2 linked regions of the Homo sapiens genome follow. The protein of the gene in region 1 interacts with the protein of each later gene in a pairwise test. Each region holds a gene or a part of one and is shown in the gene's direction. Other genes may lie near its edges.

Region 1 (3,500 bases):
GACACAGACTGCACAGAGCTTAGGAGGAAGATAAGAAAGTGGAAACAATGGGCATAGATGCTTTTTTGTTCTTTGAACTGTGGACATACAATGTAGCAAAAGGGTCAAGTGAAAGTTTTTTTCGAGACAGAAGGAAAAGTATATGGCTCAAGATAAGAGTGGGATATTGAAATTGGAGAAGAAAAGGGAAAGAGTAGAAGCAAAGATCTTCAGAATAGAAACAAGGGTTCATCAGGGCCAGACTAAGGTGAAATATACATGGTGCTTACCTGGGGTGCTAATTTAAGAAGGTCCCCAAAACTCAGTATCATGATAAATAGTATTTTATTAAATATTCCTAAAAAATCAAAATCAATGCAACAATACATGATGGAACAAAATATCAAACTTTTCTTCATTATGAATTTTTTTGAAAAAAGATTATGCTTTTTTTCCCAAAAAATGGGACAAAATTCTGTGTGAATCTTTTTGAAAATACTAATTTTTTTATTCAAAATGAATCAAAAATACATTGAGGACTTTTCTTGAACACATCATGATTCTTTTCAAAATTGACTAAAAGTATGTTTTTTTGGGGAAAAAAAGTCCATGATAAGCAAAGTTTTGAGATTTTATTTATCATACATTTTTGGTAGTAATTTTGATTTTTTAAAATGTTAATTATTTATCTTGATTACTGAGTTTTTTTAAAAAAGAGTTTATTTGAGCAAAGACTGATTTATGAATTGGGCAGCATCCTGAAGCAGTAGAGGTTCAGAGAGCTCCACCCAACAATGCAGGCAGGCAGTATTTACAGAAAGAGGAAGTGACACCCAGAAACAGCTTGATTGGTTACAGCTTAGCAATTGTCTTTAATGGGCATGGTCTGATCACTTGACAGCCTGTGGTTGCCTGAAGATCAGCTGGTATGGCTGGCTGAGATGGAGCTACCTGTTGCAAGAATATACTCCTAAGTTAGGTTGCAGTTTGATTACTGAGTTTTTGGTACCTCTTAGATTTTGTACCTGGGACAGGTTCCTCACCTCACTCACCCTGGCCCTGTTCCTGAGACAAGGAATAGCTCCTTTTAAGATGCTGATTATCATGCTTCTGCCTTGCTGGGCACACCCACACTGGTTGTAATACTCACCATCTCTTCCCATTTTCACATCTGGACTCTTCTTCTCATGCCCCTCAACCCTTAATCCCTCCCTTTCTTTGTACTCTTGCTTCTCTTCTGTCCAATCTTTGTGTCCATCTCCCAAGGCCATCTCCCATGGTATATTCCCCACCTCCCCACACCTGCCCTCTCCATCCGCCATGCTCCCTGCTTCTCTCCAGTCTCTCTTGTGCCCAGATAGACCAGCCAGAGTTTGATGTTCCCCTCAAGCAAGATCAAGAACAGAAGATCTATGCCCAGGTAAGATGGCACATGGACAAAGGCCCTGCCCTCTGAGGCCAGGAGAAAAGCAGGGACCTCTGGCACCTGTGACTGACATTTCCTTCCTCCAGATCTTTCGGGAATACCTGACTTACCTGAATCAGCTGGGAACCTTGCTGGGAGGAGACCCAAGCAAGGTGCAAGAACACTCTTCCTTGTCAATCTCCATCACTTCACGGCTGTTCCAGTTTCTGAGGCCCCTGGAGCAGCGGCGGGCACAGGGCAAGCTCTTCCAGATGGTCACTATCGACCAGCTCAAGGTGCCTGGAACTGGGGGCCAGAAGACTGTGGGCATGGGGATCTTCCTCTCAAACATTACCTCCTTTCCTTCTTCCTCCTAGTGCCCTTAATACCTTTTCATTCTGTCTCTGACTCCATCCCCTCCCCCAGTTAGCCTGTTCTCTTCTTTTTCTCACACCCAAGGGGAAGCCCTTTCCCCTTCCTTCTCTTTTCCTTTTCCCCCTCAGCTTTGTGTCCCTCCTCTAAGGAAATGGCCCCCGCCATCGACTGGTTGTCCTGCTTGCAAGCGACATTCACACCGATGTCCCTGAGCCCTTCTCAGTCCCTCGTGGTCCATGACGTGGAATATTTGAAAAACATGTCACAACTGGTGGAGGAGATGCTGCTAAAGCAGAGGTTCGCCGCAGGTGGGATTGGGGAGATCATGGAAATGGAGGAGAGCCTGAGCACCGTAGATCTTGGGGGCAAAGGAAACCTTGGGGAAGGCAGGCTGGTAAGGGCCTCCCAGGAGGATAAGAGGAACCTGCCACCTGTGCGGGCAGAGAAGCGTGGGGTGGGTGGCACAGAGAGGATGGAGGGATCAAGAAGGATGTGTCTTGGGAGCACGAGTAAGGGAGGATACACACGACATGAGGAACGCAGGGTCAGCCAAGACACGGGGTTTCCTGAGAGTAGAACACCAGCCAGTCAAGAGCCTCTGAGCTGTAGAAGATGCTGGAAGACCCAGACACAGAAGACAGTTAAGTGTATGTATGTCTTTTTAGCAGCTGAGGACTGTGGGCAGGAGGAGGAGGCACATGAGATGAGGAGATGAACATGGTGAAGGCTGGGGATGCTTAGGGGAAGAAAGGAAGAGGAGGGGCCATTCCTCAGGTGTGGTGTGAAGATGCTGGAGCTCTTATGGGAAACAATGTCTAAGAGCATTTCTGCTGGTGTCAGGAAATCAAGGGGGTGTTGGGGTTGGGGACATGAAAGAGTGGCTCTTTGTTGGGCTCTCTGCCTCCCCTGATACCTGGGTGGCTACCACCTGAAAGCAGTGGCTTTCTTCCAGGGGCTTGGACCTAAGGGCCTTCTTCATGGTGGCAGCAGCATCTGGAAATCCTTTTTGAGGGAGGTAGCTGCCCATTCACATGGCAGTGAGCAGGCTTACATAAGGGTGCAATGCAGCCCTGGCAGGAGCATTGCTGGTGGAGGAGAGAGCAGTCACAGAGACCAGCTTACTTATGCTTATGAGATACATCTGAGGATAACCAGAGATATCTTGACTGTGGAAGCAGAATCTGTTTCATGACATGAGTCCAGACTCCATCTAGCCCAGAACTTTCTTTCCCTGTGACTTTGAAGGCTGCCTCTTCATCTAGTTTCTTTTACTAAGGAGCTAGATCCCACCCCAACCTACATCATGAAAAGCTCTTTTTGACTTGGGTGCATGTTAAAACACTTATTAATACAGAGGAGAAGGAGCTGCCTTCACGAGTATCAAGGTGACTTACACAAGGAGAGGCTCTTCTTGAAGCATCCCCAGATTCCTGGGGTATATGTGTGGGTCTCTTTTGTCTCCATAGGGACTTTCTGCAGAGCCACATGATCTTAGGGCTGGTGGTGACCCTTTCTCCAGCCCTGGACAGTCAATTCCAGGAGGCACGCAGAAAGCTCAGCCAGAAACTGCGGGAACTGACAGAGCAACCACCCATGGTGAGGAGAGGAGCGGGTGTATTTGCCCAGATACTCGAAAGGAGTATCTACTCTTTTGAGGGGTAAATGTCGGCATCTCTCTCTCAGGGAGGGGGCCGTGATGGTAGATGCCCCTCCATGTCTTGGCTTTCCATAGAAGCAGGCA
Region 2 (3,500 bases), on another chromosome or scaffold:
CCACAAGATGGTGGACAACCGTGGCTTCATGGTGACTCGGTCCTATACCGTGGGTGTCATGATGATGCACCGGACAGGTAGGTGCTGTGAGGAGCAGGGTGTCAAGGTGGGTGGGGGTCCAAGGGTAGTTGGTCTGACCCACCCCTGCACACAGGGTGCCCAGTGTCCTTTCCGCTCCTCTCCCAGGCCTCTACAACTACTACGACGACGAGAAGGAAAAGCTGCAAATCGTGGAGATGCCCCTGGCCCACAAGCTCTCCAGCCTCATCATCCTCATGCCCCATCACGTGGAGCCTCTCGAGCGCCTTGAAAAGCTGCTAACCAAAGAGCAGCTGAAGATCTGGATGGGGAAGATGCAGAAGAAGGCTGTTGCCATCTCCTTGCCCAAGGGTGTGGTGGAGGTGACCCATGACCTGCAGGTAAGGGGTGGCCCAGCCTAGGGGCCTGCAGGCCTTGGAGCCAGGGGGAGGTGCTTGGGGGACCCACTCACCAATTCAGCAGGTCTGTCCCAAGACCCCCTGGATGTCCAGGCAGTGCTGGGCTCTGTGATGGGGGAAGCTGGGGCAGGAGGTGTGGGCCATGCCCTTGGGAAGATGATGATAATACCAGCAGCTAAATATAACGGAACATTCCTGTATGCTAGGCGTTCTTCTAAGCACTTTATATGTATTATTATTATTTTTTTTTTGAGATGGAGTCTCACTCTGTTGCCCAGGCTGGAGTGCAATGGTGCCATCTCGACTCACTGCAACCTCCACTTCCTGGGTTCAAGCGATTCTCCTGCCTCAGCCTCCCGAGTAGCTGGGATTACAGGCATGTGCCACCACCCCCAGCTAATTTTTGTATTTTTAATAGAGACGGGATTTCACCATGTTGGCCAGGCTGGTCTCAAACTCCTGACATCAAGTGATCCTCCTGCCTCAGCCTCCCAAAGTGCTGGGATTACAGGTGTGAGCCACCGTGCCCAGCCTTTATACGTATTAAACTCTTTTAATCCTCAAAACGACTTTATTAGGTAGGACTATAAGTTTCATCTTAGAGATGAGGAAACTGAGGCTCAGAAAGGTTAAGTAACCTGTGCAAAGTCACACAGCTAGTAATTCAGACATCTTGCACCAGAGCTAACCCTCGGTCACTGCACTGCCTCTGAGGTCTGAAGTGCCCCCAGTTATAGATTGTTTAAGCTAGAGGATTATCTACCATCCAATAATCAGACTGGTAGCTATGGGTCATCTAGGATGGCCAGAAACTTAACACACATTCTCAAGATTCTCCCTTGCAACCACCCTGGGTAGTGGGCAGAGGCTCAGAGAGAAGCAATGACTCCCTAAGGTTCCCCAGGCTCATAAGTGGTGGAGTTGCAATTAGACCTCAAGGTAAAAACATAATAGCCGCCTTTTTGTCAATCGAGAGATATTTTTGACTTACCCAAAAAAGGAAACTTTCGTGTCATTCTTTCCTTGGATGCCACAAATGGTTCTCACCTGCAGAATCGATCCAGACTTGCTGCCCAGAGAGCTTGGAGAGATAAAGCTGGAGATGAAGTGGGGCTTAGGCTCCAAACCAGGGACAAGTGGAGCTCGTACTGGTCTGTGCTGTAGACCCTGGGAGTTCCTGGAGAGGGGTCACTGTCTCTCTCCTGGTCCTGGCCCTGATCCTTCCCCAGCCCCTTCTCCAGTGGCTGTTGTCCCACCCCCTTCTCCCCTTGTTCCTCTGGTGTCTTCCTGGAACCCTCAGTGGAGACCCCACCCCCCAGATATGGGGTAGATTGAGTTAGGAAATTTGAGGCGGATGACGTGTGCAAGGTCATCCGGGTGGGAAGAGCTGGGCCTACCTCGAATGCCTGTCTCATGACCCCCTGACTCTCAGGACCTCAGGCCTAGTTCCTGTGTGGCCTTGCCAGGGAGGTGGATGTTATCCTGAAGAATCCTGGACCCGGATGCTGCCATTCACTCAGCCCACAGCCATTTACTGTCCTCTCTCCTGCATTGAGAGCCAGGGAGAGCGCTGGACATGGGCCCCGCCCTCAGGGAGCTCCAAGCCAGGTGGGAGAGACAGGCAGCACCAGACTGATAACAGGAAGGTCCAGGGAGGCACCACTCATCCTGTGGGCTCGGGAAGGCTTCCTGAAAGAAGTGGTTTCTAAAGAGCCCTAATGGGAGACAGGATGGCCATCCAGGATATAAGCTGTTCTGTGAGGCTGTCTGGAGAGTGGGGTGGGGCGTGCCAAGGGATGTGGCTGGAGGCTGCCACGTAGGCACAGGTCATATGTTAAAGAGCTTATGGTTGGCTTCCAAGAGCTGTGCAGGGCCATGGAAAGATGTTTGTGTGTGTGTGTGTGTGTATGTGTGTATATGTGTTTTAACTTTTTACTATCGAACATTGGAAAAATAAAAGTAGATTAGTGTAATGAAACCTCAAGTGTCTGTCGCCCAGCTTCAAGCATTATCAGCTCATGGCCAATAGTGATCCATTTATACCCACTAATTCCCCCCTGCATCTGATTATTCTGAAGCAAATTCCAGGCATCCTATCACTCTGGACAGGTTTTCAGCCCCAGAGTGATGTGGACATAGTTGTCCTTAGATCAGTCTTTCTCAAACTTGAGTATGCTAAGAAAGCACTTGGGGAGTTTGTGAAAAGGAATCCATGCCCACTCCCAGAGATTCTGATTCAGGGGGTCTGGGCTGGGGTCAGGACATGAGCATTTGAGATAAGCTCCTGGGTGGTGCCCATGCTGTCTGTCCCTGAACTGCAGCTGGGCAGTGCCGGGATACGTTCTCACTTGTTTTTCTGAGTCTCAGCTTCCTCATCTGTGAAGTGGCAATTAGAAGCCCTTGTAGGGTTGCAGTGAGAATTGAGAAAGCTGTGATTTGAAGTGCCAGTGCCATGCCTGGCATACAGAAGGTGACCAGGGGGTGGTTCTCTCCTCTCTGAGGAGCGGTCAGGGTAGTATGGGGTGGAGGGTTTGAGGGTGGAGGAGCCTGGCAGCCATGGCCTCACCTGGCACACCTCCTTGTTCCCACAGAAACACCTGGCTGGGCTGGGCCTGACTGAGGCCATTGACAAGAACAAGGCCGACTTGTCACGCATGTCAGGCAAGAAGGACCTGTACCTGGCCAGCGTGTTCCACGCCACCGCCTTTGAGTTGGACACAGATGGCAACCCCTTTGACCAGGACATCTACGGGCGCGAGGAGCTGCGCAGCCCCAAGCTGTTCTACGCCGACCACCCCTTCATCTTCCTAGTGCGGGACACCCAAAGCGGCTCCCTGCTATTCATTGGGCGCCTGGTCCGGCCTAAGGGTGACAAGATGCGAGACGAGTTATAGGGCCTCAGGGTGCACACAGGATGGCAGGAGGCATCCAAAGGCTCCTGAGACACATGGGTGCTATTGGGGTTGGGGGGGAGGTGAGGTACCAGCCTTGGATACTCCATGGGGTGGGGGTGGAAAAACAGACCGGGGTTCCCGTGTGCCTGAGCGGACCTTCCCAGCTAGA

The links. Proteins that work in one complex are often made in the same cells at the same time.
Region 2: the proteins of KEL (region 1) and SERPINH1 interact in binary tests that used the Homo sapiens proteins (3 or more experiments, as listed by UniProt).

The regions. Positions count from the first base shown.
Region 1 is NC_000007.14:142,952,364-142,955,863, reverse strand, and holds part of KEL (kell blood group glycoprotein), read left to right. Parts: intron 1-1,336; coding exon 1,337-1,399; intron 1,400-1,491; coding exon 1,492-1,680; intron 1,681-1,907; coding exon 1,908-2,056; intron 2,057-3,225; coding exon 3,226-3,355; intron 3,356-3,500. UniProt on the Homo sapiens protein: Zinc endopeptidase with endothelin-3-converting enzyme activity. Cleaves EDN1, EDN2 and EDN3, with a marked preference for EDN3.
Region 2 is NC_000011.10:75,568,753-75,572,252, forward strand, and holds part of SERPINH1 (serpin H1 isoform 1 precursor), read left to right. Parts: coding exon 1-77; intron 78-186; coding exon 187-419; intron 420-3,028; coding exon 3,029-3,331; 3' UTR 3,332-3,500.